Linked DNA regions of Homo sapiens. The protein of the gene in region 1 interacts with the protein of each later gene in a pairwise test. Each region holds a gene or a part of one and is shown on either strand. Other genes may lie near its edges.

What was found.
Region 2: the proteins of CLNS1A (region 1) and FRMD7 interact in binary tests that used the Homo sapiens proteins (3 or more experiments, as listed by UniProt).
Region 3: the proteins of CLNS1A (region 1) and EPB41 interact in binary tests that used the Homo sapiens proteins (3 or more experiments, as listed by UniProt).

The regions. Positions count from the first base shown.
Region 1 is NC_000011.10:77,620,318-77,630,814, reverse strand, and holds part of CLNS1A (methylosome subunit pICln), read left to right. Parts: intron 1-915; coding exon 916-1,052; intron 1,053-4,996; coding exon 4,997-5,098; intron 5,099-5,744; coding exon 5,745-5,852; intron 5,853-8,141; coding exon 8,142-8,315; intron 8,316-10,497. UniProt on the Homo sapiens protein: Involved in both the assembly of spliceosomal snRNPs and the methylation of Sm proteins.
Region 2 is NC_000023.11:132,123,232-132,134,508, reverse strand, and holds the start of FRMD7 (FERM domain-containing protein 7), read left to right. Parts: upstream 1-6,488; 5' UTR 6,489-6,664; coding exon 6,665-6,721; intron 6,722-11,277. UniProt on the Homo sapiens protein: Plays a role in neurite development, may be through the activation of the GTPase RAC1. Plays a role in the control of eye movement and gaze stability.
Region 3 is NC_000001.11:28,987,381-28,997,877, forward strand, and holds part of EPB41 (protein 4.1), read left to right. Parts: intron 1-50; 5' UTR 51-57; coding exon 58-525; intron 526-1,975; exon of another isoform or gene 1,976-2,055; intron 2,056-5,949; coding exon 5,950-6,162; intron 6,163-9,834; coding exon 9,835-9,939; intron 9,940-10,497. UniProt on the Homo sapiens protein: Protein 4.1 is a major structural element of the erythrocyte membrane skeleton. It plays a key role in regulating membrane physical properties of mechanical stability and deformability by stabilizing spectrin-actin interaction. Recruits DLG1 to membranes.

The DNA.
Region 1 (10,497 bases):
ACTATATTGCATTAACATTTTTTTTTTGACTTCTTCAGGATTTTTTACTTTTTTTCTGCTAAGTGGTACAGCTCCAGATGGATGAAGTATTATCAGAAAATTAGCTAGCCTCTACTGAAAGCTCAAAATACTGATTTTGGTGATGTGTTTCCTTTGTTACACCAATAAAATATTTGCATTTGACCACATTTGAGGGAAAACTAGATCTAGCTTTTCTGTGGCTTTCTCTTAAAGACGTTGAATAAATGAAAGGCTTCAGGGAATCTGTCTCTCAGGGTAATAATTATTTCCTGACTTGCGGTGAGTGTGATTACAGCCATTTCATATATATGTCTTTTAGTGTAGGATTCATGGAGAAATGCATGATTACCAAGGATTTATTGCATACTTAACTCCTGAGCTCTTTGTTAACGGTTTTGAAGGATGTTAATAAAGGAATGTGACAAGTTCTGCTGTCCGATAGTTCACATTCCATAAGGGCACATATAAGACTCATTACCACAGAGTTAAGTGCTAAAATTTGCAAATCAGAAAAGGAAGAGATCTTTATGGACTGGTGTAGTTGAAGGGAGGCCTCATGGAAGAGGGGAGGATTTGCAAAAGCAAAGAGGGTATTTGAAGACATACCAAAAAAGAGTAAGCATGAAAGTCATAGAAACATACATGTGACTGAGGAAAATGGAATTTCAAGTCTGTTTGAATTTATAGCTAGAGGGAAAGAGACCGTAACAGAATTGATCTTAAAGAAAACTCAGTTTCCACTACTGAATTTTCTTATTTTATGAACGTTTCTAAAAAAGTAAACTTGAATTTATTTATATGCATAAAGGTGTCCAAGCTGAACTTTTATATACTTTGTGGTCTTACATGAGGATTTACTTTCTAAAAATAATCTACTTAAAACATGTTTTTCAGCCGCCTGTCTTGGTTAGATGGCTCTGGATTAGGATTCTCACTGGAATACCCCACCATTAGTTTACATGCATTATCCAGGGACCGAAGTGACTGTCTAGGAGAGCATTTGTATGTTATGGTGAATGCCAAATTTGAAGGTATGTATGGTGTAATTTAATCTAATGCCTCCTTTGATAGCAAATTATATTTTAAAAAAGAGTCTTTGAGGCCGGGCACGGTGGCTCACGCCTGTAATCCCAGCACTCTGGGAGGCCGAGGCGGGCGGATCACAAGGTCAGGAGATCGAGACCATCCTGGCTAATACGGTGAAAACCCGTCTCTACTAAAAAATACAAAAAATTAGCCAGGCGTGGTGGTGGGCGCCTGTAGTCCCAGCTACTCAGGAGACTGAGGCAGGAGAATGGTGTGAACCTGGGAGGTGGAGCTTGTAGTGAGCCGAGATCATGCCACTGCACTCCAGCCTGGGCGACAAAGTGAGACTCCGTCTAAAAAAAAAAAAAGAAAAAAAAGAGTCTTTGATAATAATCAATGTAACATTGAGGCCATTGACTCATTTTGGGTAGTAGTTTATTAAGCAAAATTTCAGCACAGCAACTTGGACACTTGAAGTTTTCACAATGGATGTTCATGTGTGTCTGTATATATTTCTCTATATTTACACTTAGAATTCTTCATTTATTATGGATATGTATTTCTAGCTTTTCCTCTAAAGTTTCACTGTTTATTCTGCCTTTCTCTTTTTAAAAGGCACCCTTAGGGGCTTGGATCAGTATACCCTGTGCTTCTCATAATTTAAGATAGAACTGTTTTGTTTTGTTTCAGTAGTGGGTCTCAGTGGTTGTAGGGGGGATATATTTTCCATGGGCCTCCACCAACCTCACCATTCCCCCACATTTGGCAGTGACATTTTGGTTGAAAGAGGAAGGGTATTATTGGTGTCTAGCAGTTAGATGCCAAGGATGCTATTATTATACTAAATATTCTGCTATGCACAGATGGTCCCCCACAACAAAGAATTATTCCATCCAAATGTCAGTAGTGCCAAGGTTGAGAAACTGTAGGATATAAAGATTCTCAAGTTTTGCTTTGGGATAATTGCAAAGACTTGTAAAAGTCTAGTGAAGATGCTCATGTTTAAAATAACGGGTTGCTTTTCTTTGAAGTAGTGTGTAAGAGACAATCCTATGAAGTTACCTACAAGGCTATTGCTCTTTCAAATTTAGATTTTAATATGGTTCCAGATATAATATGATCATTTATATTCAGGTGTGAAACTATTTAGTAATTCTTAGGACTTTTGGCAAGACCTGCCTCATTAAGTGGTAATGACTGATTCAGCTATCTGAAAATATTTTTGTTATAAGATTTCAAATTCTTGCCATTGGAAAAGGTTCAAAGACATTTAAAAATCTAGTGAAGTTTGAAAAAGAGGATGAGGAAAAGTAAAAGGCTGTTAACCTTGGGGTGTAGTAGTGTAGTAAGACTTCCTAATAAGGCATTTGGCACAAAATTTACTCTCCATCTAAGTAAATGCAACTATGATTTTATAACCAAGAATATTATGTGTCATGTTTAGTTTAAAGCATTCATTCATTTGCAGAAATGCGAAACCTTGCTCTTGTCAGTCAACTCCAGATGCTGGTGTGAAATGGCCCCAAATAGTGACGGCCATTGGAGGTGGGAAAGGTACATGCCAAGAGAAAGGCTTAGGAAATAGCATTTAATAAATACTAGCCTAAGGGCAAAAGCACATTGAATAAGAAAACTCTGTCATTAGGCCGGGCACAGTGGCTCAAACCTGTAATCCCAACACTTTGGGAGGCCAAGGGGGGCAGATCACAAGGTCAAGAGATCGAGACCATCCTGGCCAACATGGTGAAACCCTGTCTCTACTAAAAATACAAAAATTAGCTGGGCGTGGTGGCGGGTGCCTGTAATCCCAGCTACTCGGGAGGCTGAGACATGAGAATCACTTGAACCCGGGAGGTGGAGGTTGCAGTGAGCTGAGATCGCGCCACTGCACTCCAGCCTGGGCAACAGAGCAAAACGGTCGAAGAAAAGAAAAAAAAGTAAGAACTCTGTCATTAACTTGCTAGGCAAGTCATTTGCATTTCTCTGAGCCTGAATTTCATCCAAAAAGTTAAGGGAGTATATTAGTCTCTTGTTCCCAAACTCAAGACTAATGGATACACATTAGAAATACATGGGAAGCTTGTTTAAAATGCAAATGCTCTGAGTCCTAAACTAGGAAAAAGCAGTTCAGTAGGTTTTAGGGTGTGTGTTTTAAATATGTGCTCTATAATCATACAGAATCTATATGATTGGTTGTAATTGATGTGATTATGATTAATCCTTTCTTAGTAAGATATGCAGGATTTCCTATCTTACTAGAAATTAGTATCTTTCTGGGTCACATTTATTTCACTAATTCTCCAGTTCCTTTTTTTTTTTTCTTTTTTTTTGAGATGGAGTCTTGCTCTGTCGCCAGGCTGGAGTGCAGTGATGCGATCTTGACTCACTGCAACCTCTGCCTCCTGGGTTCAAGCGATTCTTCTGCCTCAGCCTCCCGAGTAGCTGGGACTACAGGCTCCCGCCACCACGCCCCGCTAATTTTTTTTTTTTTGTATTTTAGTAGAGTTGGGGTTTCACTGTGTTGGCCAGGATGCTCTCCATCTCCTGACCTCATGATCCACCCACCTCAGCCTCCCAAAGGGCTGGGATTACAGGCGTTAGCCACCTCGCTTGGCCCTTTAGTTCTTTTTATCTTAAACTCCTCTCATAAATTACATGTGCTTGAATCATATTTTCCCAGCCTTTGTTCCTTGCATTCTGATTCTCTAAGCTCTAAGTTTTTTTTTTTTCTCTTTGGCATACCTCTGTAAGTCTCTTTAAAAATGACCATCAGGGCTGGGCGCGGTGGCTCACACCTGTAATCCCAGCACTTTGGGAGGCTGAGGCGGGCGGATCACGAGGTCAGGAGATCAAGACCATTCTGGCTAACACGGTGAAACCCCGTCTTTACTAAAAAAAATACAAAAAAATTAGCCAGGTGTGGTGGCGGGCGCCTGTAGTCCCAGCTACTCAGGAGGCTGAGGCAGGAGAATGGGGTGAACCCAAGAGGCAGAGCTTGCAGTGAGCCGAGATGGCACCACTGCAGTCCAGCCTGGGCGACAGAGCAAGACTCCGTCTCAAAAAAAAAAAAATGACCATCAGGACCGGGCATAGTGGCTCACATCTGTAACCCCAGCATTTTTTTTTTTTGTGATGGAGTCTCACCCTGTCACCTAGGCTGGAGTGCGATGCTGTGATCTTGGCTCACTGCAACCTCCACCTCCCAGGTTCAAATGATTCTCCTGCCTCAACCTCCTGAGTAGCTGGGATTATAGGCGCCTGCCACCACGCCTTGCTAATTTTTGTATTTTTAGTAGAGACGGGGTTTCACCATATTGGCCAGGCTGGACTCAAACTCCTGACCTCGTGATCCGCCCACCTCGGCCTCCCAAAGTGCTGGGATTACAGGCGTGAGCCACCGTGCCCAGCCACAATCCCAGCATTTTGAATGGCCAAGACAGGAGGATCACTTGAGCCCAGGAGTTTCAGACCAGCCTGGGCAACATCGTAAGACCCCATCTCAAAAAAACAAAAATTAGCAGGGTGTGGTGGCAAGTGCCTGTAGTCCCAGCTGCTTAGTAGGCTGAGGTGGGAGGATCGCTTGGGCCTGAGAGGGCAAGGGTGTCCAGTCTGGGCAACAAAACAAGTCCCAGTCTCAGAAAAAAAAGTTGACCCTTAGCTCATTGTTGATGAGATTAGATTACCTTAAAAATAACCTTAAAAATTCATTCCCGGTGAGGCGCGGAGGGAGCACTTTGGGAGGCCAAGGTGCGTGGATCTCGAGGTCAGGAGATCGAGGCAAGGCTTTTCTAGGATGCTCACTGTATAATCAGAATTTTTCAACCATAATTGGAAATAAATTTGTCAACCATAATTGGAAATTAAAATTGAATTGCAATATTCAGATTTTCAATATGCTTCATTTTTTTAAAGTCAAATAATGACATTAAAAGGGTATTTTATTTTCTAGAAGAATCAAAAGAACCTGTTGCTGATGAAGAAGAGGAAGACAGTGATGATGATGTTGAACCTATTACTGAATTTAGATTTGTGCCTAGTGATAAATCAGCGTGTGAGTGTTCTACAGTATTGATTCTTCCCCTTTTACATACCAAGCATTCCCAATTGACACACACACACATACACACACACACACACCTCTCACCTTTACCACCATTACCTCCATTCTATTGCTTTTTCTTTATTTTAGCATTGGTAATATCATTAAGGACCAAATACCTATTAATATCAAAGGTTGTGAATGTAGTGAGAATATTGTAGACACTCTGTCATCTGGGTATATTTTGTGAGTGGACTCTGGTTAGTTTTACTGATTGGTGCTGTTGACTTAATCTCACCTGCTGGATGGCAGAGGAGTTATGGCAGTTTTAAAGTGGAAGATCTCAGGATGGCTGGAAAGAGCCCTATCAGCTGAGAGCAGTCTTCACCCTTCACCCTGATGCCAGCAGTCTTACCAGGACTCTGACCCTTTTTTCTTGGAAAATCCCACGAGCCATGAAGAGATTGCAATGATCTCTCATAATGAACTCTTATTATTTTATGACTTGTCTTTTGCTTCAACCGCTTTCAAGATTGATCTTACAATTTGGCAGATTTTGTAAATACTGTGGCGTTTTGTGTACCCATTAAATTTATTTGCACTGATGGTTACTTTTATTACAAAAAAAGATTGGTTACAGTTTAATTTCCTTGTTCAGTGGAGGCAATGTTCACTGCAATGTGCGAATGCCAGGCCTTGCATCCAGATCCTGAGGATGAGGATTCAGATGACTACGATGGAGAAGAATATGATGTGGAAGCACATGGTTAGTGAAATGGATTTTAAAGTGGGTTTTTTGTTTGTTTAGTGTTTCATTTTAAGCATTTATTTGTATTAAGGGTAGAGGATTATAGTTCTTTATATGACTGTAAAGTATGCAGTATGGTAAAATTATTATTATTATTTTTGAGATGGAGTTTTCGCTTTTGTTGCCCAGGCTGGAGTGCAATGGCGTGGTCTCGGCTCACTGCAACCTCTGCCTCCTAGGTTCAAGCGATTCTCCTGCCTCAGCCTTCCAAGTAGCTGGGATTACAGGCATGCGCCACCACGCCAGGCTAATTTTGTATTTTTAGTAGAGATGGGGTTTCTCCATGTTGGTCAGGCTGGTCTTGAACTCCCGACCTCAGGTGATCCGCCTGCCTCGGCCTCCCAAAGTGCTGGGATTACAGGTGTGAGCCACTGTGCCTGGCTGGTAAGATTATTATTAAAATAGAATGACACGGTAGAACACTTTATGCCAAAGCCCTTTGCAACAGACAAATTTTTGAGTGTAAGAAATAGAGATTGTTATGGGGAAGAATGGGTAAGTAGAGCATATGGGAGGAAAGAAAATGGTAGATAGGGAAGTGGATGGTCAGGAAAGTCTTTTAAGCTGAGGCAGCTGCCCCCAGAGAACAAGCTTCTCTCTCTACACCTTGAGAACCTGGATCATTTATATTGTTTTATTATTACTATTATTATTTTGCAACAGGGTCTCACTCTGATGCCCAGGCTGGTGTGCAGTGGTGTGATTTCTGCTCACTGCAACCTCTGCCTGCTGGACTCAAATGATTCTCCCAGCTCAGCCTCTTGAGTACCTGGGACTACAGGCTTGCGCCACCATGCCTGGCTAATTTTTGTGTATTTTTTATAAAGACTGGGCTTTGCCATATTGCCCAAGCTGGTCTCCAACTCCTGGGCCCAAGCAATCCTCTGGCCTTGGCCTCCCAGAATGCTGGGTTACAGGCATGAGCCACCGGGCCTGGCCTGCATCTTTATTTAACATGTTCCTTCAAACAGCTCACTGCCAAGGTCATTTCTTTTTCTCAGAACCATACTTCATTTATTTAAGAGCCCTTTCCGATTGCCTCCCCCAGACCAGAATGCAGTCACTAGCGTGATAAGAGTCTTTATAGCTTGAAGTACCTGCTGTTCTCTTTTCTTTTCCCTACTGGTCTTATGTACACCAATCTGGGTATCCAAAGCCCTTTCCTTCATATGTACCCACTTCCTGGCCTGAGATAAACACATTTCTGGGATCCGCCATCACATACCTAAATATATCCAAATATATCCTTATCTTTCTGAGATTTTTGAGTGATTTAAAATTTTTCATCCTTTTTGTATGTTCCAGAATTTCTAATTTTTTTTTTTTTTTTAAACAGGGTCTAACTCTGTTGCCCAGGCTGGAATACAGTGGTACCATTCTCCACCCACTGCAGCCTTGAACTACTGGACCAAAGCTGTCCCACCCCAGTCTCCCGATTAGCTGAGACTACAGGTGCACACCACGTGCCCGGCTAATTAAAAAAAACATTTTTTTGGAGAGATGAAGTCTTACTATGTTGTCCAGGCTGATCTTGAACTCCTGGGCTCAAGCAGTCCTCCCAGCTCGGCCTCTCAAAGTGCTGGGATTACAAACGTCAGCCACTGCACCTGGCCCTGATTTTTTTTAAGAAAGGAGCATGTTTTTTAATCAGAAAACATCTTCATTTTACAAATTAATACCAAATTAATTTGTGCTCACTTGTAAAATTCCCACCTCAGGATAATGTAGGACTCTCTGACCTTAGGAACACACTTTTTTTTTCTAGTCCCTGGACTTGGGATTCTTTGGGAATTGCTGTTTACTGGCTTGTTATCTCTTTTAATAACCCTAGAGAGTAGGTACATCTTCTTTGTATTTCTGTCTTCAGCAGTAGCCTATATGTGTGTATAAATAAATGTTCAAAAGTATCTTCCTGGAAGCCTATTTGGACAGTATATTATCTTCAGCAGATTCTTTTTTTTTTTTTTTTTTCCAAGACAAGGTCTTGCTCGGTTGCCCAGGCTGGAGTACAATGGCGTGATCTCGGTTCACTGCAACCTCCACCTCTGTGGTTCAAGCGATTCTCCTGCCTCAGCCTCCTGAGTAGCTGGGACAACAGGCGCGTGCCACCACGCCTGGCTAATTTTTGTATTTTTAGTAGAGATAGGGTTTCACCATGTTGGCCAGGCTGGCGGCAGATATATTATTGATTCCATTTTGTTTTTTCTAATTGTTGTATTTAAACTTTAAAGTTTTCTGTTTGTTTAGAACAAGGACAGGGGGACATCCCTACATTTTACACCTATGAAGAAGGATTATCCCATCTAACAGCAGAAGGCCAAGCCACACTGGAGAGATTAGAAGGAATGCTTTCTCAGTCTGTGAGCAGCCAGTATAATATGGCTGGGGTCAGGACAGAAGATTCAATAAGAGATTATGAAGGTGAGTGTCCTTTTGCAGTGTGAACAGTCAGATGAGCACTTGGGCAATAAGTTATGGATAGTCAATAGAAGTTCTTTTAATAACTAAGAGAAAGAATTGACTCTCTATAGTATAGGAAGCAGATACAGAATTACATAGTATAGGAATGCTTATGTCATTTGTTTTTAGTGATTTTTTTTCCTCATTACCAAAAAAGTCTTTGTTCATAGTCAAAAAAATTTTTTTAATGTGCGCAAGAAAGTAGAAGTGAAAAAGAAACAAGTGTAATTCTAACTGAGAGATATCCACTATTAATTTACTGTTGCATCTGTGTATTAGTTTGCTAGGGCTATTATAACAAAGTGTCATACAGGCTGGGTGGCTCAAACAATAGAATTTTATTGTCTCATAGTTTTGGAGGCTAGAAGTCCACGATAGGTTATCTCTGAGGGCTGTCAATTCAGGCATCTCTTCAGGTATACACACACCCACCAAAGCAAGAGAGAGATTTTAAGAAATTGGCCCACGTGACTGAAGGCTGGCAAGTCCAAAATCTGCATGGTAAGCCGGCAGACTGGAGACCCAGAGAAGAGTTTATGTTGCATTCTGCTGCCTCAGAAGTTCTGCTGGCAGAATTTCTTCTTGCTCAGGGGAGGTGAGTCTTTTTCCTATTGAGGCCTCCAGCTGATTAAATGAGACCCACCACACTATGCAGGGTAATCTCCTTCACCCAATTTTCACCAGTTTACAAGGCTAATCTCATCTAAAAAATAACCTCCACAGAAACATCTAGAATAATGTTTGACCAACTATCTGGACACCATTGCCTAGCCAAGTTGATGCATAAATTTAACTATCACACCCTTCTTTTTTTCTTAAGATGGAGTTTCGCTCTTGTTGCCGAGGCTGGAGTGCAATGGCACGATCTTGGCTCACTACAACCTCCGCCTCCTGGGTTCAAGCGATTCTCCTGCCTCAGCCTCCTGAATAGCTGGGGTACTGGCGCCTGCCACCGCTCCCAGCTAATTTTTGTATTTTTAGTAGAGACAAGGTTCCACCATGTTGGCTTAAAGTATGCACAGGCAAAGAAGAGGTAGAAAAAAATAAATATAATTCTGAGATGCATTTACTATTAATTTTCTGTTGCATATCCTTTCAGTCTTGTGTCCTTTTGTGTGTGTATATACACTGATTGTGTGTGTGTGTGTGTGTGTGTGTGTGTGTGTTTGAGACAGAGTCTTGCTCTGTCGTCCAGGCCGGAGTACAATAACGTGACCTCGGCTTACTGCAACCTCTGCCTCCCAGGTTCAAGTGATTCTCCCACCTCAGCCTCCTGAGTAGCAGGGATTACCCACTACTATCGTGCCCAGCTAATTTTTGTATTTTTGTAGAGACGGGGTTTCACCATGTTGGCCAGGCTGGTCTCGAACTCCTGACCTCAGGTGATCCGCCCGCCTCAGCCTCCCAAAGTATTGGGATTACAGGCGTGAGCCACTGCACCCGGCCATGATTCTGTCTTATTTATTTATTTATTTATTTAAGACGGAGTCTCACTCTGTTGCCCAGGCTGGAGTGCAGTGGCATGATCTTGGCTTACTTCAACCTCCACCTCCTGGGTTTAAGAGATTCTTCTGCCTCAGCCTCCTGAGTAGTTGGGATTACAGGCATGTGCCACCATGCCTGGCTAATTTTTGTATTTTTAGTAGAGGCGGGGTTTCACCATGTTGGCCAGGCTGGTCTCTAACTCCTGACCTCAGGTGATCTGCCTGCCTTGGCCTCCACCTTCCTGGTTCAAGCCATTCTCCTGCCTCAGCCTCCCGAGTAGCTGGGATTATAAGCGCCTGCCACCATGCCCGGGTAATTTTTTTGTATTTTTGTTAGAGATTTCGCCATGGGGTTTTGCCATGTTGGCCAGGCTGGTCTCAAACTCCTGACCTCAGGTGATCCACCCACCTTGGCCTCCCAAAGTGCTGGGATTACAGGCGTGAGCCACTGTGCCTGGCCAAGACAACTCTTTCCGTGGGGCTTGTATTAGTCTGTTTTCACACTGCTGATAAAGACATACTCAAGACTGGGCAATTAGCAAAAGAAAGAGGTTTCATTGGACTTACAGTTCCATATGGCTGGGGAAACCTCACAATCGTGGTGGAAGACGAGGAGCAAATCACATCTTACATGGAAGGCAGCAAGCAAAAAGAGCTTT
Region 2 (11,277 bases), on another chromosome or scaffold:
AGTTTGGCTGGATATGAAATTCTGGGTTGAAAACTCTTTTCTTTAAGTATGTTGAATATTGGCCCCCACTCTCTTCTGGCTTGCAGAGTTTCTGCCGACAGATCTGCTGTTAGTCTGATGGGCTTCCCTTTGAGGGTAACCCGACCTTTCTCTCTGGCTGCCTTTAACCTTTTTTCCTTCATTTCAACTTTGGTGAATCTGACAATTATGTGTCTTGGTGTTGCTCTTCTCAAGGAGTATCTTTGTGGTGTTCTCTGTATTTCCTGAATCTGAATGTTGTCCTGCCTTGCTAAATTGGGGAAGTTCTCCTGGATAATATCCTGCAGAGTGTTTTCCATTCTCCCCGTCGCTTTCAGCTACACCAATCAGGCGTAGATTTGGTCTTTTCACATAGTCCCATATTTCTTGGAGGCTTTGCTCGTTTCTTTTTATTCTTTTTTCTCTAAACTTCCCTTCTCGCTTCATTTCATTCATTTCATCTTTCATCGCTGATACCCTTTCTTCCAGTTCATTGCATCGGCTCCTGAGGCTTCTGCATTCTTCACGTAGTTCTCGAGCCTTGGTTTTCAGCTCCATCAGCTCCTTTAAGCACTTCTCTGTATTGGTTATTCTAGTTATACATTCTTCTAAATTTTTTTCAAAGTTTTCAACTTCTTTGCCTTTGGTTTGAATGTCCTCCTGTAGCTTGGAGTAATGTGATCATCTGAAGCCTTCTTCTCTCAGCTCGTCAAAGTCATTCTCCATCCAGCTTTGTTCCGTTGCTAGTGAGGAACTGTGTTCCTTTGGAGGAGGAGAGGCGCTCTGCTTTTTAGAGTTTCCAGTTTTTCTGCTCTGTTTTTTCTCCATCTTTGTGGTTTTATCTACTTTTGGTCTTTGATGATGGTGATGTACAGATGGGTTTTTGGTGTGGATGTCCTTTCTGTTTGTTAGTTTTCCTTCTAACAGACAGGACCCTCAGCTGCAGGTCTGTTGGAGTACCCTGCTGTGTGAGGTGTCAGTGTGCCCCTGGTGGGGGGTGCCTCCCAGTTAGGCTGCTCGGGGGTCAAGGACCCACTTGAGGAGGCAGTCTGCCCGATCTCAGATCTGCAGCTGTGTGCTGGGAGAACCACTGCTCTCTTCAAAGCTGTCATACAGGGACATTTAAGTCTGCAGAGGTTACTGCTGTCTTTTTGTTTGTCTGTGCCCTGCCCCCAGAGGTGGAGCCTACAGAGGCAGGCAGGCCTCCTTGAGCTGTGGTGGGCTCCACCCAGTTGGAGCTTCCCGGCTGCTTTGTTTACCTAATCAAGCCTGGGCAATGGCGGGCGCCCCTCCCCCAGCCTCGCTGCCGCCTTGCAGTTTGATCTCAGACTGCTGTGCTAGCAATCAGCGAGACTCCGTGGGCGTAGGACCCTCTGAGCCAGGTGCAGGATATAATCTCCTGGTGTGCAGTTTTTTAAGCCAGTCAGAAAAGCGCAGTATTCGGGTGGGAGTGACCTGATTTTCCAGGTGCCGTCTGTCACCACTTTCTTTGACTAGGAAAGGGAACTCCCTGATCCCTTGTGCTTCCCGAGTGAGGCAATGCCTCGCCCTGCTTCGGCTCGCACACGGTGCACACACCCACTGACCTGCGCCCACTGTCTGGCACTCCCTAGTGAGATGAACCCGGTACCTCAGATGGAAATGCAGAAATCATCCGTCTTCTGCGTCGCTCATGCTGGGCTATACAAAATCTTTTAAATAAGAAAAATAAAATGGAATGTCGAAGTAAATGAACACATCTTTCACAATAAAAGAAATCCACACAAAAAAGAAATTAATATAAATGTAATGGCACTGGGGCCAGGCACGGTGGCTCACACCTGTAATCCCAGAACTTTGAGAGGCTGAGGCGGGCAGATCACGTGAGGTCAGGAGTTCCAGACCAGCCTGGCCAAAATGGTGGAACCCCCATCTCTGCTAAAAATACAAAAAAAAAAAAAAAAAAAAAAAACTAGTGGAGTGCGGTGGCACATGGCTGTATTCCCAGCTACTTGGGAGGCTGAGGCAGGAGAGTCACTTGAACCCGGGAGGTGGAGGCTGCAGGGAACCAAGATCGCACCACTGCACTCCAGCCTGGGAGACAGAGCGAGACTCCATCTCAAAAAAAAAAAAAAGTAATGGCCCTTAAACATATGAAAAGATGCTTGACTTCTCTCATAATATGAAAAGTACACCAAGATTTTTTTTCTCACCTATCAGTTTGGTAAACATTCAAAAGTTCGATACTCCACTGTCAAGCCTGTATAGAAAACAGTCACTCTCATATATTACTAATGGGACTGCAATGTAGCACAACCTTTATTAGTTTGGTAGGGCTGCCATATGAAATATCACAGACCGGGTGGCTTAAACAACAGAAAGTTATTTTCTCACCATTCTGCAGGCTAGAAGTCTGAGATCAAGGTGTTGGCAGGACTGGTTTCTTCTGACACCTCTCTCCATGGCTCATAGATGTACATCTTCTCCTCTATGTGTCTTCATGTTGTCTTCCCTCTCTACATGTCTGTGTCCTACTCTCTTTTAATAAGGACACCAGTCAAACTGGATTACGACCCACCCTAATGACCTCATTTCAACTTAATTACTTCTTTAGAGACCCTCTCTCCTAATGCAGTCACATTCTGAGTTACTAGGGCTCAGGACTTCAATGTATGAATTTTATGGGTCACAATTCAACCCATACTAACCCTTATGGAAGGAAATATAGCTATCATGACTACCAATTCATTATCCTTGACCAGCAACTCTACTTCTGGAAATCTATCCTACAGATATATCTGCACACATATAAATTGACATATGTATGAAGATATTCATTTCAGTCTTGTTGAGGCTGAAATATTAATTTCAGACTGGCTGAGTGAACTTTGGTTTGTCTACACAGTGCAAAATTATGCAGCTGTGAAAAGAAATGAGGAAGTTCTCCATGCACAGGTAAGGGCAGATCTCCATGATAAATGAGGAAAAAGAATGCACAAAACAGTGTAATACTAGTATGCTACCTACATAGGATATATATATATATTTGTATTTGCTTGTATAAAATTTGCATAAGGAAACACTGAAGGCTGAACAACTACAACAAAACGCTAATAAAAGTGGTTATTGAGTGGGACCAGCCATGCAAATCTCTAGAAGATGACGGTGTTCTTTAAAACACTTCAAAATCATTGGAAGAAAACTACAGCTGGGCTCTTCCTGCTGACCTGGGGAGGCCAGTGGCTCTATGGAAAACACTGTGATAACCTACTAAGGAGAGCAGCCTGTGAAGAAGCTCAGGTGTTTGGCAATCAACTCATTCCTCCCAATGCACAAGTGAAGAAGGAAACTGTTTTTCTCAATCCTGCAGCTTGCAAAGGCAAAGCCAGGATTCTATTTGAAAAAAATGCTGCCCCGATTTTACATTTATCCCAGCATAGGTGTGACTAGTGTTAAGACAGATTATGAGGGACAAGCCAAGAAATTCCTGGAACTGATAGAAAACACATATGTGATCATTGTTACAGGAGGAGATGGGACACTGCAGGAGGTTGTTACTGGAGTTCTTCGATGAACAGATGAGGCTACCTTCAGTAAGATTCCCATTGGATTTATCCCACTGGGACAGACCAGTAGTTTGAATCATAACCTCTTTACTGAAAGTGGAAACAGAGTCCAACATATTACTGATGCTACACTTGCCATTGTGAACAGAGAGACAGTTCCATTTGACGTCTTGCAGATCAAGGGTGAAAAGGAACAGCCTGTGTTTGCAATGACTGGCCTTTGGTGGGGATCCCTCAGAGATGCTGGCATCAAAGTTAGCAGGTACTGATATCTTGGGTCTCTAAAAATCAAAGCAGCCCACTTTTTCAGCACTCTTAAGGAGTGGCCTCAGACTCATGAAACTTCTATCTTGTATACAGGACCTACAGAGAGACCTGCCAATGAACCAGAGGAGACCCCTGTACGAAGGCCTTCTTTGTACAGGAGAATATTACGGAGGCTTGCATCTTACTGGGCACAACCACAGGATGCCCTTTCCCAAGAGGTGAGCCGAGAGGTCTGGAAAGATGTGCAGTTGTCCACCATTGAACTGTCCATCACAACACGGAACAATCAGCTTGACCGAACATGCAAAGATTTTATGAACATCTGCATTGAAGCCGACACCGTCAGCAAAGGAGGCTTTATAACTATAGGAAGCCTAAAGGTGAGAAAAGCCAAGCTGGACACTGAGGGCATGGAGTGTCTCCAAGCCAGCCAGTACACTTTGCTTGTCCCCAAGGGAGCAGGGAGCTCTTTTAGCATTGACAGTGAGGAGTATGAAGCGATGCCTGTGGAAGTGAAACTGCTCCCCAGGAAGCTGCAGTTCTTCTGTGATCCTAGGAAGAAAGAACAGATGCTGGCAAGCTCCACCCAGTGAGCAGGCAGACGACAAGTACTCCGAGACCACATTTTAGGCCACCGGTGGGACCAAAAGGGAACAGGTGCCTCAACCATCCCAACAGTGTTCTCAGAGGCTCTCAAGGGCATTTTCATGGCAACTACCCCTCTGCCAGCCTCCAGCAGTGCTTCCCAAAGTGTTCTCTGTCACCTGCTTTGCAATCAGCTTCTGTTAGGGCATGTTTTGTTTTGGTGTGACGGTCGACCCTCCTAAACACGGGCTTTCCTCAGGCTGGTTCAAGATGGGAAAGGACTTTCTTCTGTTTTCTCCCAAAGTGCAACCACAGTGGAAAGCCCACAGTGGGCTTAGCCTGCCTAAGCCCTTCCATTCCCATTCTATTCTTTGATTGTACTAGGAATTCCAGGAAAAGTGCCTTCCTTCCCTGGTGACCTTTTCCTATTTCTAGCCTCCTCCACGGGTGCTGCTATTTTGAGAGCTCCGGCTCTTGTTTAGCTTTTATTTCAATTCTATCCTCAGTCCAGGTATGTATGTGAGGTTGTTTCCCTCTTCAGCCATGGCTATAATACTGTAAAATGCTAGTTTTTATTTTTTAAGTAGTGCTTCTTAAATGGTTTGCATGAGAGCCACTTGGAGTGCATGTTGAAAATTGATCTATTTGGGGTCCACCCCAAACCTAACAACCCAATTTGGGGATGGGGTTCAGGTATCGGCATTTTTAAAAAGTCAGCCACCCTTCCCAGGTGATTCTGTAAGTTGGTCCCTCAACCGTACTTAGAGAAATAGTGTTTTAAAGCAGTGGTCCACAAAGTATTCTGCTCATGTGACCCCCAAAAGTATTTTGAAAAATCATGTGTCCCCTCACCCATCTAAGTTGACATCTAAAATTTTTCATGGGAAGTTAAATACTTGACAAAGTATGTGTTTGCTGGTGTCATATAAATATTGGTATTTTAAAATAAAAACTGTTACATCACTATTTTAAACATATCCGGTACAATTTAAATATCACAACAATTTGACACCCTTTATTCATTTATAAAAATAAACGAGCTAGTTCTTTAGTAGTTGAACATTTTAAATTGGCTTTTCTTCTTCTATATTTTCATACCACTTTCAGCCAAGAATCCTATCGTAATGTAATCTACTGTGCTTGGCATCTTTTAATCATTCACCCATTATCTTCTTGTCAACAAAAAATACAAATGGAGGTAAGTTTTCTTAGTTCTTGCCTTAAGTGTTATCTCAGTCCAGAATAAATGTCATCGTAATTATTGTTATATAATGAAAATGATATTAATGTAATTCTTTGATGACTGTTTTATTAGAACGTTCTTTATCCTAATTAGTTCATTTATCCAAGAATACATGAATGTTATTTACAGCTGAGATGGGGTTCGACCTTAGTTGTATTCCTTGTTTCATTTCTTTATAGATGTAAGCACATAAATTCTATGGGAATAGAAAGAAAAAAAATTGGTTACCAATAGGGGTGTATTGGGAACACAGAAAAGAGGGAACAGGAGTGGAAGTGAAGTTTTCTATATACCTTTTTATATAGTTTTTATTTCTAAATCATGTGAATTCAGATAATTAAAATTATGCATAATTTTATATTATATATGTTTCTATATAATAGCAATTATATGGATATATTATATCTATATAATTATATATGGATATATTATATCTATATAATTATATATGGATATATTATATCTATATAATTATATATAGATATATATAAGCATAGATAGATAGATAGATAGATAGATAGATAGATAGATAGATAGATAGATGCTTCCTAGCTTGGCCATGAAATTTCTAGTACAATTTGAGATTAACTTGAATCTTTTTACTTTTGAGAATGGCTATTCTCAGTTTATTAAAGCTTGATCTAGGGTTTTCAAATTGTGCCCTTGTGAAATAAAGAAAATCCCCAGGGACCACAAATGCTTGCTTTCTTTATATTTTTCTTTGAAGAAAGGAGCTGAGTTTAAGAAGGCTAGAGGAAGTCCAGTTAGATTTGATATTGACCAAACAGGAGACTGCCCAGATGCTATTGATCCCCTGCACTTGGCAGCACAAATGCCCTTGGGTGTGCATTACTTCAAGCAAACGGAAGTGTGCCCCGCTGACAGTGGGAATGCCTGGCTGGGGGTGGGGGGGCCCGAGTGCACCACATCCAGCTGGGAGTGAAATTCCTGGAGAAAGCACCCACAGCACTCTGAGCCTGCTTGCAGCCCAACGGCCTCGCTGAGAATGCTACATTTAAAAGTGCAGTTTTTGGATGATTCCCAGAAGATTTTTGTGGTTGATGTAAGTGGAAATCACATTGCTATTATTCCTTTATTATTCATTCAATAATTGTCATTTGTGAACAGCCCATTAGAGAGCAATGTTATGTCTTCTTTAGGACTGAATGAAGGAGGACTGTGATTTTTAGCTTTGGAAAAATAATCTGTATTTAACATCACAATGTAGTTCATATTTTTCCATTAACCTTTCTCTTAGAACAAGTTGTCTTTTCTCAAGGGACAACAATAGCAAATTTTAAAGACAGGATAACTATTTGCAAAAAGTAAAGCAGCAATAAACTAGTTCTTTTACCCAATAAGGTATTGTTGTTCATTGAAATTATGTCTGTGGGTCTCACCCCATGAGCATTTGTGGGGAGAAAACTGTTGTTCTGAGGGAAAGGAGTGGGGGAAGCTATCCTCCTTTTCTGAAGAAAACCTATGGGTTATAAGGGGTAGAATTATGTAGTTGTAATGAGAACTTCAGGAAGGAATGACAAGTATGAGAGAGAAAAATAGGATAAGAGACTATTTAGTTTGATTTAGTACTTATAGTTCAGAGTTCTTAATAAATTCCTAGCTACAAGATGATTGCATACAATTATACCTCATCTCTTCAAGAAAGAACAAATGTATTAAGCACATCATTTGGTGCTCATGTTCCAACATCTTAAGATATGTACATTTTGATGTCAGGATTTATGTATGAGCATTTTGAAAAGTTCTACATTTTTATTGGAACCAAAAATGCTATTTGCTCTGATATTTACATTAGCCACTAACAAGAGACAAATAGTTTATTTTCTCTGAAATTCATACAAAATGTTGGTTTTTTTCTTTTATACATAAACTGACAACTGCTGTGGCTCAGCCATGATGTTGTGTGTGTGGGTAGCCCATTTTTCCAATGAGTATTTTATTTTTATTTGAATCATGTGCTTTGTGAGTGATGACTTCATGTCTTCATCTGCTGTTTTGCTGTCTCTTCCTTTCAGTTTTATGCGCAAAAGGCATTTCTAGTTCCACGGACCTGAATGATTTGTTTTTGTAGCAAATAGCTTCCATTAGAGGTATGAGGCATTTCCTATTCTTTCTTGGAACTATATTTAAGGGGTGGAAAATATCTTTTGAGTAGTTTATCCATTTGCAGACTGGTGGTGTATGCTCACAGTGCTGCAGTACCTGAATTAGTGAGCTGGGTATTCAAAAGATATTGCTTTAGGCTAAGTTTTTAATAGATATTTCAAGGAACTCAAAGAGAAATCTTTGACAAAAAGTGACAGAAGAGTTTGTTGAATGTGCAGTCTAATTCAGATCCATTTAAATGGGGTGGAGGGTGGGTAAGGAACACAGTACCATATCTTCACAAAATTCACCTACGGAAGAGCCACTTCCAGCAACTAGAAGACTTGATTTGGCTTCAAGTCAAACTGTCTCTTTCCAGCTGCAACACATTGTGTTCCTTGGAAAGATAATGGGAGAGATTTGATACCCAGCAATTCAGGTGTCAAAGCATGTGATCCCTTTTGCTCTGTGGAAGAATGCTTTGTAAGTAGCAACCATGGTGTTACCCAGAGAGGCAATAGCATTGGCTGCAGTACTGTGAGTGGCTTTGTCCAGAGGAGTTAGAAGCTTAAGTTAGCATTCAATCATCCAATAGTACCTTCTCTGCTTAACAATAATAGATTGATGATGATGATGATGATGATGATAGTGATGATGATGATAATGGTGGTGATGATGATGATAGCAGTAGTGAGTCATCTGTGGATAGCACTTTAAAATTTACAAAGCACTTTCACATCCATTAGTTCATTTGATCTTCCATTCAGCCTTGTGAGTGAAGGTAGGGAAAAGATCTTTTCCCATTTTGTAAGTTAAAAGATGGAGGCTCAGGGAACTTAAGTGACGTGTGCACAATCACACAGCATATAATTGCAGAGCTGGACTTCCAATCCAGAACTCTCCCCTCTCCTTCATATACAATTGTAAACAGTAGACTCATCTGTCAGTAGCCTTCAGTATTGCCGATGCACATTATTTATTTTCTGATGACCTCACAAGGCATAGAACTTGGCACACAGTGAGCTTTTGATGACTATTGTGAACCAGTTAGTAGACCCTTCTTTTCTTAATCATGGTTGAAGAATTATGTGGGACAGTGTTCCCTCAAGGTCAGGGAGACAATGGTGTGAATCTTTTCACCTATTCAAACACTTAAAAAAGCAACCTAAAGAATGCTCTATTTTATTAGTACTAACATTCCAAATTTGATGAAGAAATGCTTGGAACCATAATGAAGAGAACCCATTGATAGCTGAGGAAGGCCACATGGAGGACCTTTTGATACTAAACTGAAATCTCAAGAGGCATGGATCATAACCAGGGAAAATTGTCCTTCAAGATAAGATTCAAGAAAATAATTGGTTGCATAAGGGAACATAGTGGACTCTTGGGTATTGGTGTTGATTTTATAGAAAGTGCAGTGGTAGAAATATAAAAAGGACACATGATCAGATAAAATAATGTCACCTGGAGAAAGCTCATTGACATCCAGAACCCTTTCTCCACCCCCAGTACTATTATCTTCCTGAATTTGCCAGTGTCCAAGGTCTAACTCAGGCCTCCTGACTAAGAAGCCTGTTTTGTCACTACTCCACAAGAACTGGAGTCAGAGACTGACATTTAAAATTAGAATGCTAGTGTCACCATTTACAGTGGGATTGGGGACACTGGGGTCCTCTCATCATTTATATGCCAAATGATGTCAGAAGAGCCAGATCTGGAAGAATTAGATATATGATCCTAATATTCGATGGCTTGGTAATGCATCTGTGTCCACAGAGGCCATGGCATTGAGACCTTTTAGTCACGTATTCATTAATTAACTCATTTAGTTAACAAATTATTATTGAGGACCTAATATGTCCCAGGCCCAGTTCTGGGAACAGTAGACTCTGCTATATTGGTAGGTAAAGTTCGTGAGCAAGAGCACACTCTGGCCTGGACATACTGCCTGGATGCTACCAATTTTGGCCTTGGTTATTCCTTTTTCTGTCATTGCATGATTGACAACTCCGCTTTCTGATCATCCTACTGTTTTTAACTTGTTAATACTTTCAGTTAGTTTATTAGAAAGAGTGGCTGCTCCCAAATACATCTTGTTTTCCTGAGGTTTCTTTGCATATTTGTGCTCTGAGTCACTTGGTGTTGATTTTATAGATAAATTCTCTGAAAATATTAGTCAACCTTTTCTTTCATGAACTTCCAATAGTGTTTAGGGGTGCAGGATAGGTTATGGGACTTCACAATTGCTAGAATGTGCCTACTAAAGTACAATCCAATGAAGAAAATGAATTTAGTGAAAATGTCATCTTACTTTTCAAGCCCTCATATTTATTTCATAAACTGATCATTGTCAAATATTAGCATTATTCTTAGGGCTGATCTTACAACGGACAGCTTATCTTTAGACTGTCAAGGAAGGCTCTCTAGAATGATGATGGGAGTGGGTGAGTGAGACTAAAAATTGAATAAGGTCATGATTTACAAATTAATTGCAGGTTTTATTGTATATTTGGTTTTGCTTCTTCAACATGGAGACTAGAACTTTTCTTGAAGGAAAAAAGGAAGATAAGACCAAAGTTAAAGCTTTGTGAGATATTAGAAACAATAGAGGGTCAAGTTTCTAGCTTGACTATCAATCTCTTCAATATACACACATGCACATGCATGTGTGCACACACTCTCACACACAGTAGTAGTGATGAGTGCCTTTGGAGAGCAACCTCTTGTTTGCTCATCTCAGGTTACATAGAGAGTTGTACAAAATGGTCATCCCATCACCGTATTTGACACAGTTCTATCTGATATCCCTTTTTGCCTGCTGCATTTCTGTCTTTGTAAAAGCTGTTATTTCTGAATTTCCAAAATGATGTTTCACTTTGATGGTTTCTGGAGACTAAAGTCAAAACGAGATGTTAAAACATCTCTACTTTCACATTTACCTGATTGCTAAGTGATTGTACTGGCCATGCAGTGGGTACCCAGTAACAGAATATAGTAAGTTAGCTCACCTGATTCCCTTGGGAGCCCATGATAAAGGCCACTAGGCCTCATTTTTGGAAAGAGACAGAGAGGCAGTGCCAGGACCGAACACTGTTCAAGTTAAGTAGGAAAGCAAAGCACAGTGATTTTTAAATTTATTAGTGGTGGAATTTACCCTTGGGATGTTTGCCCAGGGGTTGGTTTTTAAATTTGCGATGATGAAGGATCTTTTGTAGTTTAGTCAACAGTGAAATAGATAACTGATTCTGTCACTTCATAAGGCAAAGTTCTTCCAACTTCAATGATATGAAATTGCTTTGGTGTAATAGAAGGTACCTGGATTTGGGACTACAAAAACTACCAAAAAACCCACCACTTTAGCTATGTAATCTTGGACTAATCACTTATCCCCTTAGCTTGCTGAGTTGTTGCGAGGAGTAATACAAATTAGGTAATGTATATTTGGAGTCTGATAAACCAGGATAGATTTGACTCTGCCACTGACAAGCTGTGGAGCCGTGGGTAAGTCAC
Region 3 (10,497 bases), on another chromosome or scaffold:
TAATGTGTTTTGCTTATAAGAGCCCCCCTTTTCTATCTTCTTTTTAATAGCAACATCATGACAACAGAGAAGAGTTTAGTGACTGAGGCCGAAAATTCACAGCACCAACAGAAGGAAGAGGGTGAGGAAGCCATAAACTCAGGCCAACAAGAACCTCAGCAGGAGGAATCTTGTCAAACAGCAGCTGAAGGAGATAATTGGTGTGAACAGAAGCTGAAAGCTTCTAATGGAGACACTCCTACACATGAAGACTTGACCAAGAACAAGGAGCGGACATCAGAAAGCAGAGGACTTTCACGACTATTCTCCTCGTTTCTCAAAAGGCCCAAATCTCAGGTGTCCGAGGAAGAAGGCAAAGAAGTAGAGTCAGATAAAGAAAAAGGTGAAGGAGGTCAGAAAGAGATAGAATTTGGAACCAGTCTTGATGAAGAGATCATTTTAAAGGCCCCAATTGCAGCTCCTGAACCGGAACTCAAAACAGACCCATCTTTGGATCTTCATTCATTAAGCAGTGCAGAAACACAGGTAAGGATGTGTGGATATGGGAGGTGGGCAAAGGAAGGCAGGTTATACACTTTATTTTTCATTTAAGAGTATTTGGGCTGGGCGCGGTGGCTCATGCCTGTAATTCCACCACTTTGGGAGGCCGAGGCAGGCGGATCAACTGAGGTCAGGAGTTCGAGACCAGCCTGGCCAACATGGCCAAACCCTGTCTCTACTAAAAGTACAAAAATTAGCCGGGCCTGATGGCGGGTGCCTGTAATCCCAGCTACTCAGGAGGCTGAGACAGGAGAAGTTGAACTCGGGAGGCGGAGGCTGCAGTGAGCTGAGATCGTGCCACTGCATTCCAGCCTAGGCAACAAGGATGAGATTCCGTCTCAACAACGGGGGGATAAAAAAAGTACTTGGTTTTATTTCTTACTAGCTAGTTGACTTAGGCATTGATAGTGATAAGTAGCATCATAAAGCTTTATAGTTTCTACTCTATTTTTTTTTTGAGACTGAGTCTTGCTCTGTCACCCAGGCTGGAGTGCAGTGGTGTGATCTCGGCCCACTGCAACCTCCCCGTCCTGGGTTCAAGCTATTCTTCTGCCTCAGCCTCCCGAGTAGCTGGGATTACAGGCGCTGGCCACCATGCCCAGCTAATTTTTGTATTTTTAGTAGAGACAGCGTTTTGCTGTGTTGGCCAGGCTGGTCACAAACTCTTGACCTCAGGTAATCTGTCCACCTCAGCCTCCCAAAGTGCTGGGACTACAGACGTGAGCCACCATGCCCGGCTTATAGTTTCTACTCTAAAAAAATTAATGTAGTCATTGGAAACTTACTTTTTAAACAGTTACTTACACTTTATATGTATTAAAGGGTCTTGCTATTTTGCCCAGGCTAATCTCAAACTCCTGGGCTCAAGTGATCCTCCCACCTCAGCCTCCTGAGCAGCTGGCATTACAGGTGTGTACCACCATGCCTGTCCATTTACTGTTTATAAATCAAAGAATAGTAGAGAAAAAAAAAGTATCAAATCAATGTGTTCAGCCCATATATCATTTTATTATAATAATGGAACAAATTGAAGATTTCTCATGAGAGAGGAAAAGAAAGATGAGATGGTTTAGAGTTCATTTTTGTGGAATTATTAGGAACAGGACGGTTATCAGCAGATGTGGTTCTTTTACGTAAATCTTCCTAAAAGCTGTGTGATGAATTCAAGCCCTTTGAAGGTATGTGATAGATTCAAGTCATGTCTACCTTATTTTGATCATCTTCTTTAACTAGAGCATATTGCCACAGAGTGTAAGATACAGATGAGGAAGTCTAGCTCTTTCTATCACCTGTGTAATGTATATTAGTCTGGGGCCTTAATTGTGACATAGTGTTGTTAAACTAAACACGAGTTGTGAGTTTATTTGTCCCAAAAAATGGGAAAACATTAGTACTGTAACTCAGACTATTTTCTGAGAATGTCATTTATTTTCAGCCTCACCATTACAATTAAGAATTATTTTCAGAGTCTTCTTATTTCTGAAGCATGTGAATATTATCTGCATCGTTAAAAGTGTAAGTCCTTCTAGAACTCTGACAGTGTTGGGGGGAAAAAAGTAAAAGTCCTACATGTTTCTATTATAGGTCTGAGATTTGGACTCCATAGTTTTATTAGAGTCTTATTAGAATATTACATGTATTTCTAGAACTATTACTTGTATATTCAAAGTGCTGAGGGTAAAATTTAGGATAAAATTATAATTGCACACTTGCTGTTAGTGAAACAAGGTTGAAAACAAGATTTACTATGTTCTGTAATAGTTAAGATGCAAGCTATAGAATCCGACTAGAGGGTTCAAATCGAAGAAAAGTGACACTTTTCACTTTATCAGTTTCCTCCTCTGTACAATGGGGATAATAATATCCACCTCATTTGGGATTGAAAGGATTAAAAGAGTGAAACCGGTAAAAGCTCTTAAAACATTGCCTGGCATTTAATAAATACTCAATGAATGTTAGCTAGTAAATAAACACAAACAGTAAAGGCAAAGAAACCATTCATATCTTAATAACATTTTATTTTAGGAATACCAAAAGAATTAAATTACATTATCGGCCGGGCGCAGTGGCTCACACCTGTAATCCTAGCACTCTAGGAGGCTGAGGCAGGCGAATCACAAGGTCAGGAGTTTGAGACCATCCTGGCCAACATGGTGAAACCCTGTCTCTACAAAAAATACAAAAAATTAGCTGGGCGTGGTGGCGGGCACCTGTAGTCCCAGCTACTCGGAAGGCGAGGCAGGAAAATTTGCTGAGAGCCGAGATCACGCCACTGCACTCCAGCCTGGGTGACAGTGCGAGATTCCATCTCAAAAAAAAAAAAAAAAAATTACATTATCTTTCAGGAAGCCTGGTACTTTCAAGAGTTTTTCAAATTTCCTTCCTTCCTTCCTTCCTTCCTTCCTTCCTTCCTTCCCTCCCTCCCTCCCTCCCTCCCTTCCTCTCTTCCTCTGCCTCCCTCCTTTCCCCTCCCTCCCTCCTTCCCCCTCTTTATTTATTTTCTTTTTTTCTTTCTTTCTTGACAGGGTCTCTCTCTGTCACCCAGACTAGAATACAGTGGTGTGATCATGGCTCACTACAGCCTCAACCTCCCGGGCTCAAGCTATCCTCCCATCTCAGTCTCCTGAGTAGTTGGGACTACAGGTGCATGCCACATGCCCAGCTAATTTTTAAATTTTTTGGTAGAGACGGTCTTGCTTTGTTGCCTAGGCTGGTCTTGAACTCCTGAACTCGAGCAATCCTTCTGCCTCAGCCTTCCAGAATGCTGGGATTACAGGCATGACCACTGTGCCTGGCCTCAAGGGGTTTTTAACTGCTTTTTTCTCCTTCAGCTTTATATAGGGGAAAATCCATATCTTGTTTTAGTTAACATTTGAATCAGAACTTGTCTGCATTGTCTAAAGTTCATAGATTCGTACTCAAGTTGACACAGATGATGGACAGTTAATTTTAGATTTAACTAAAATCTCATTCATTAAGATTTAATTCCGAATTGAAATAAATTGTCCGTAGGTTATTTGTCTTCATGTGGAGAAAAAGAAACGATATTGTTAGTAAAATTTCAAGGAGATATTATTTAAAAGAACAAACTATTTTAGGCCTTTTGGAAACTAATATTTATAGTCAAAACCTTGTGGATCAGAGTCGTCTGGATAAAGGTTTATTTGCCTAACCATGTTTCTGTATATGTAATAGGATTTTATTTAAATGGTTCTTTTTTATCCAGAATTTTTTAAAAAGCGTGTTTGCTTTATATTATAAATATATAAATATATATTTATATTACATTTAAGTGTATAATATATATAAATATAGGATTGTACCAGTCTTCATCCAGAGTAGCTTGGATTTTTTGGAAGCCTATGTAAATTTTTAATGTTTGTTTATTCATTCAACAAATATTTATTGAAAACCTACCATGTGTGCCAGGCCCTAGGCTGGATATACCTTGGTAAATAAAAACTGCAATATGGTGAAGAGGTTTAAAATCATGGATTTTGGGGCTGAGTGTGGTGGCTCATGCCTGTAAATCCAGCACTCTGGGAGACTGAGGCAGGAGGATCACTAGAGCCCCGGAGTTCGAGACCAACCTGGGCAACATGGAGAAACACCATCTCTACAAAAAAGTAAAAAACTAGCTAGGCATGGTGGCTCTCCTGTAGTCCCAGCTACTTGGGATGTTGAGGTGGGAGGATCACTTGAGTCTGAGAGGTCGAGGCTGCATTGAGCCATGATTATGTCACTGCACTCCAGCCTGGGTGATAGAGTGAGACTCTTGTCTCAAAAAAAAAAAAAAAAAGCAAAAAAAACAAATCGTGGATTCTGAAGCCAGACTGGTATGTGACTTATTAATTGTATGATCCTAGGCAAGTTACTTAATTTCTCTGGCCTGTTTTACAACCCTGCAGGCCAGGTACTATTATCCTCCCTCTATCAAGTGGGGATATAATAATACTACGTGCCTCGCAGGGTAGTTATGAGGATTGAGTTAGTTCACATAAGTAATTTTCTTAGAATAGTGACTGGCCCATTGTAATTGTTGTATAAATGTTTGGTATTATTATTATTATAAAACAGACATGATTTCTACCCTTGTGGACTTTAATAGAGAAGACAAAAAAGTAGCAAATAAAAATAATTATTTATTGTAATAAGTTATAAAGCCACCAGAGTACTGATATGAAAGACAGTAGAGCGGGCATAGATAGATAGGATAGCCAGTGAAGAGACTTCCTGAGGTTGCAGTGAGAGGGTCATGAAAGATCGGAAGGAGTCTTTTAGATTACTTCCAGTATTTAATGCAGGAGTCAAATAATTAATTTCTTTTTCCTAATTGTCAACCATGCATTCTTTTTTTCTTTTAATTGTTTTCCAGCTGTTACACAAGGAAGTAACATATTCTTTTAAAAGAAAATAATTAGTCGGGTTTAGATAAAAATATGTCGGTAGTTTTGTTGTGTTGAAAGTAAAAGTAAAAATGTATGCCGGCCAGGCACGGTTGCTCACGCCTGTAATCCCAACACTTTGGGAGGCCGAGGCGGGCAGATCATGAGGTCAGGAGATCAAAACCATCCTGGCTAACGTGGTGAAACCCCATCTCTACTAAAAGTACAAAAAAATTAGCTGGGCGTGGTGGCGGGCGCCTGTAGTCCCAGCTATTCAGGAGGCCCAGGCAGGAGAATCGCTTGAACCCTGGAGGCGGAGCTTGGAGTAAGCCGAGATCGCGCCACTGCACTCCAGCCTGGGCTACAGAGTGAGACTCCGTCTCAAAAAAAAATGTATACCAAAAATGTTATCCTACTTATCGGTATTATTTGGGGATAATTTAAGATTGCACCAGGAAACTCTTCCTTCATTGACTCTTCTTTGCATTTAACATGATTAATATTGGGTAGAAAGGTGTTAGCTGGTAGTTAAAATTTTTAGCCTACTACATGTTTGCTTAATGATGTGAAATTGGTCCCAAGCATTTCTCTTAGAATTAAAATTAATTTAAAATTTAGAATATGTAACAAGTCACATCTTATTTTGCAGTTTGTAAGGCTACATTGCTAAAATTGAGGAGCATGGGCAGAGACAATAACGTTTTTGTTAAACTTTAATAATACCGTGTAATGGCTTGGTCAGGAAGAATATATAATGCTGAGAGCAATGGATTGGTATCCTCCGGTTTACCTGAGACCTTCATTTATTGATTTGATGGGATTCTACCTGAGAAGTTTTAATAACAAAGTCTTTAGGGCATTTGGGGGATCATACTATTTTTTATAGAAAAATATTTAATATTAATGTCACCTATATTTGTTTTAGTTCATGCTTTTATTGGTAAGATTATTATAGGTAAAAGCATATACAGCATGTTTTGTGAAATGTGTTTATTACTGACTTGGCGATGTCATGGATATGTAGCCTGCTCAGGAAGAACTCAGAGAAGATCCAGATTTTGAAATTAAGGAAGGAGAAGGACTTGAAGAGTGCTCCAAAATAGAAGTAAAAGAAGAAAGCCCTCAATCAAAAGCAGAAACAGAATTAAAAGCTTCCCAAAAACCAATCAGAAAACACAGGAACATGCACTGCAAGGTTTCTTTGTTGGATGACACAGTTTATGAATGTGTTGTGGAGGTGAGTATGTTTTCATTTCCAACAATCAGAACTCTTACAGGTGGTTTCATCTAGAGTTGCGTAAGTGGTGATTTTGCCCACGATAAGACTCACTGTAGTGATTATTTCTTTTTTCTTTTTTTTTTTTTTTTTGAGACAGAGTTTTGCTCTGTCACCCAGGCTGGAGTGCAGTGGCATGATCTTGGCTCACTGTAGCCCCCAACTCCCATGTTCAAGTGATTCTCCTGTCTCAGCCTCCCGAGTAGCTGGGATTACAGCCATGTGCCACCATGCCAGGCTAATTTTTTGTATTTTTAGTAGAGACAGATTTCACCATATTGGTCAGGCTGGTCTTGAAGTCCGGGCCTCAAGTGATCTGCCCACCTCGGCCTCCCAAATTGCTGGGATTACAGGCATGAGCCACTGCGCCCGGCCTTTAATGATTATTTCTGTAGATGGAAGTATTAATGGTGATTTTCTGGAGGTGGGATTATGGGAAGATGATGAGTAAGTCTTTAAGTCCAGTAAATGCCATTTCTTAAAATTTTCTGTTTTCTGAAAGAATAAGTGATTGAATCAGGATTGAAGAAAAATATCAGAGTTATTCAGTTACTCTTTTTGCTCCTTCAGGACAAGTTGACAATTTTTTTTTTGTTTGTTTGTTTTTTGAGACAGAGTCTCTCTCTGTCGTCCAGGCTGGAGTGCAGTGGTACAATCTCGGCTCACTGCAAGCTCTGCCTCCTGGGTTCACGCCATTCTCCTGCCTCAGCCTCCAGAGTAGCTGGGACTACAGGCACCCGCCACCACGCCTGGCTAGTTTTTTGTGTTTTAAGTAGAGACGGGGTTTCACCGTGTTAGCCAGGCTGGTCTCGATCTCCTGACCTCGTGATCTGCCCGCCTCGGCCTCCCAAAGTGCTGGGTTTACAGGCTTGAGCCACCGCGCCCGGCCAGAGCAAGTTGAAATTTTAAAAAAATCTACTAACTATATATTTTTCAAACTGGAACAGTAGTTGTTTATTATGATATGCTTGATATATAAGCAATTGCAATTGTTACTAGTAACAGCTTTTATTGACAAAGTGTGTAATTCACATATATGTGGAACAAACTATTTTATTTATTTATTTATTTATTTATTTATTTATTTATTTATTTGAGACAGGGTCTTGCTCTGTTGCCCAGGTTGAAGTGCAGTGGCGCAGTGACAGCTCACTGCAGCCTCAACCTCCTGGGCTCAGGTGATCCTCCCACCTCAGCCTCCTGAGTAGCTGGGACTACAGGCACATACCATCACACCTGGCTAATTTTTTATATTTTTTGTAGAGACAGGTTCTCACCATGTTGCCCAGGTTACTCTTGAGCTCCCCGGCTCAAGCGATCTGCCTGCCTCAGCCTCCCAAAGTACTAAGATTATAGGCATGAGTCACCGCACCCAGCCTTATTTCTTAATCACATTATTTATTTGCAAATGTAAATATGTTCAATCACAAATCATCTAAAATATTATGCTATATTTACTAATAGGTATTCTCTAAGTTTAAAAAGGAAATCAAGAAAGATGTAATTGTACTTTGAAACAGGTACTATACACCTAACTAGAGCCTTAGGGTCTGCTTTTTCTGCTTCTTGCACTAACTAATTTAGAGATGGGGAAAGCTATTTTACACCTATTCTTCCCATTCAGACCAAGATCCAGATATGGATCTCTTATATATGAAGCCCTTGGGGACAGATGTGTCATAGAATTCAGAATATTTTGAGGCCGGGCACGGTGGCTCATGCCTGTAATCCCAGCACTTTGGGAGGCCGAGGCAGGTGGATCACGAGGTCAAGAAATCGAGACCATACTGACCAACATGGTGAAACCCCGTCTCTACTAAAAATACAAAAATTAGCTGGGTGTGGTGGCACGCACCTGTAGTCCCAGCTGCTTGGGAGGCTGAGGCAGGAGAATCGCTTGAACCCAGGAGGTAGAGGTTGCAGTGAGCTGAGATCACACCACTGCACTCCAGCCTGGCGACAGAGTGAGACTCCGTCTCAAAACAAAACAAAATAAAAACTAGAATTCAGAATATTTTGGAGTTTAGCAAGGGAATAAGTACATATTCTGCATATTTTATAATAAACCCAGCAGTGTCTGTAGCAGCACCCACATGATCAGACATAGTATTTCTATGGTAAAAGATATGAAGATTCATTCTGAGGTGGATAAATTAAGATTATAAATAGTCTCTTTACAGTTCAAGTCAAAATTTGCCATTTGGATTTTAGAATTATGAATAAGGGATTAGGGAAAATACATGAAGCATTTTCAAATCATCTTCTGTCATTTAGAATGAAAACATGGGAGAAAAAAAGAAAATTATTTGATATGGATGAGTTAAGACTGACAATGAATGAACATTTATGTGAATTATTAATAGTCATTAAAAATAACTCATCTCATTGAGAGGAGGACATGTCATATATGTTTGCCCAAAAAATGATTCTAATTTTTTGAAGTATTTTCATATATATTTCTCAGAAGACATTCACATATTTGATTATTGTTAAACAATTCCAATAAAGAGGTAGGATGAGTGTAAATATTCTTATCATTTCACAGCTGAGCAAACTAATGTTCAGAAAAGTTAATTGAATCTACTCAGCTTGTTTAGCTAGTAAATGGAGGAGCCAGGACTTTCTGACTAAATCTCAGTCTTTAAGTTAGGGTATTTTCTTCCTATAAATAGGAGTAAAAGAACCCAAATTTGGGAATGGTTTGACTTTCTAGGTTAAGAAACATTAAGAAAATTATTCCTAGCACCACTGAAGGAGCCACTTCAACAGGTAGTGTCTGTTGGCTATCTAGAATTTTACTTTATTCATTTTTCTGAAAGAGATTGTAGGGAGTTGAGGCATACCTCATTTTCTTTGGGACATTTGGTCTGAAAATGATAGAGTCTAATGATTTCCACAGCCACAATTAAATGTCACTCTGGACAGTTGATTCAGTAATTTAAGTAGTCACGGTAACTGACAGTTGCTCATAGCATGCTACAGGATATATTGCACCAAAAATGAAGAATGTGATGTGTAGGATGGAGATGGGGAATATGAGATGGAAGGAAGGTAGAATTTTGCTTTGAATTGTAACACAATTTCTAAACTAGTATATGTGTATTACATATGTAAACTGACAAATTGAAGAACAGGAATTTTATAAATCATATTTTCTGCTTAAACTATGTAGCCACCTGAAAGTTTGTTGATCACCAAAGATGAAAGAAGAAATCGGAAAGTGACATTTTATTTTATTTCATGATGGGTGTAGAAATAAGAAGAAACCTCAGGCCAGGTGCAGTGGCTCATACCTGTAATCCCAGCACGTTGGAAGGCTGAGGCGGGGGAATCACTTGAGGCGGGGGAATCACTTGAGCCCGGGAGTTCAAAACCAGCCCGGGCAACATAATGAGACTCTCTCTACAAAAAATTTTAAAAATTAGTCAGGCATGGTGGTGCACATCTGTAGTCCTAGCTACTCTGGAGGCTGAGGTGGGAAGATCACTTGAGCCCAGGAGGTTGAGGCTGCAGTGAGCTATGATCAGGCCACTGTACTCCAGCCTGGGCAACAGAGTGAATCCCCATCTCTTTTGGGGAAAAAATAAAAGAAGAAGAAACCTCAACTCAACTAAGTCACGTATATCTTTGCAGAAACATGCTAAGGGACAAGATTTGCTTAAACGAGTATGTGAGCATCTCAATCTTTTGGAAGAAGACTATTTTGGTCTAGCCATTTGGGATAACGCAACCTCTAAGGTGAGGAGACTGCTTGCAATTTAAGAAGCTGACAAAAAATTTATTTTAATTCTTTTGTTGTTAAGAATGTATCTATACCTGCTTCTCTAAGCCAGTGTTCTTAGAGTTATTCCTGTCTACTCTTATTTCTTAGATTTTCCTGCTATTTTTCTTCTAGAATTAACATTTTAAAGGAAAGACCATTGCTGGTGTATTCTTTCATCATTGAAATAAAGTATATATTGTATGTTTTTACAAGGCAAGGAAAATAAAGAGGTATGATGCACTGATTAGCAAGTACTGTAGATGTCAATAACTTAATATATTATGCAATTGGTATTGTATCTAATGCATAGGTTTATAACAAATATTTGTTGAATGGATGATCTGTTATTAATATTATAATGACATATCATAATTAAATATAATTATGATATATAATTATAATTTGAAAGCAACATTATGAAACAGAATAAAATCCCAATATTATTGAAACGGTCATAACGATGAATCTGACATTTCCTCCAACCTAAAAGGAAACCATTGTTAACTTTTGAAGGAGGTAAAAGAATGGACTTG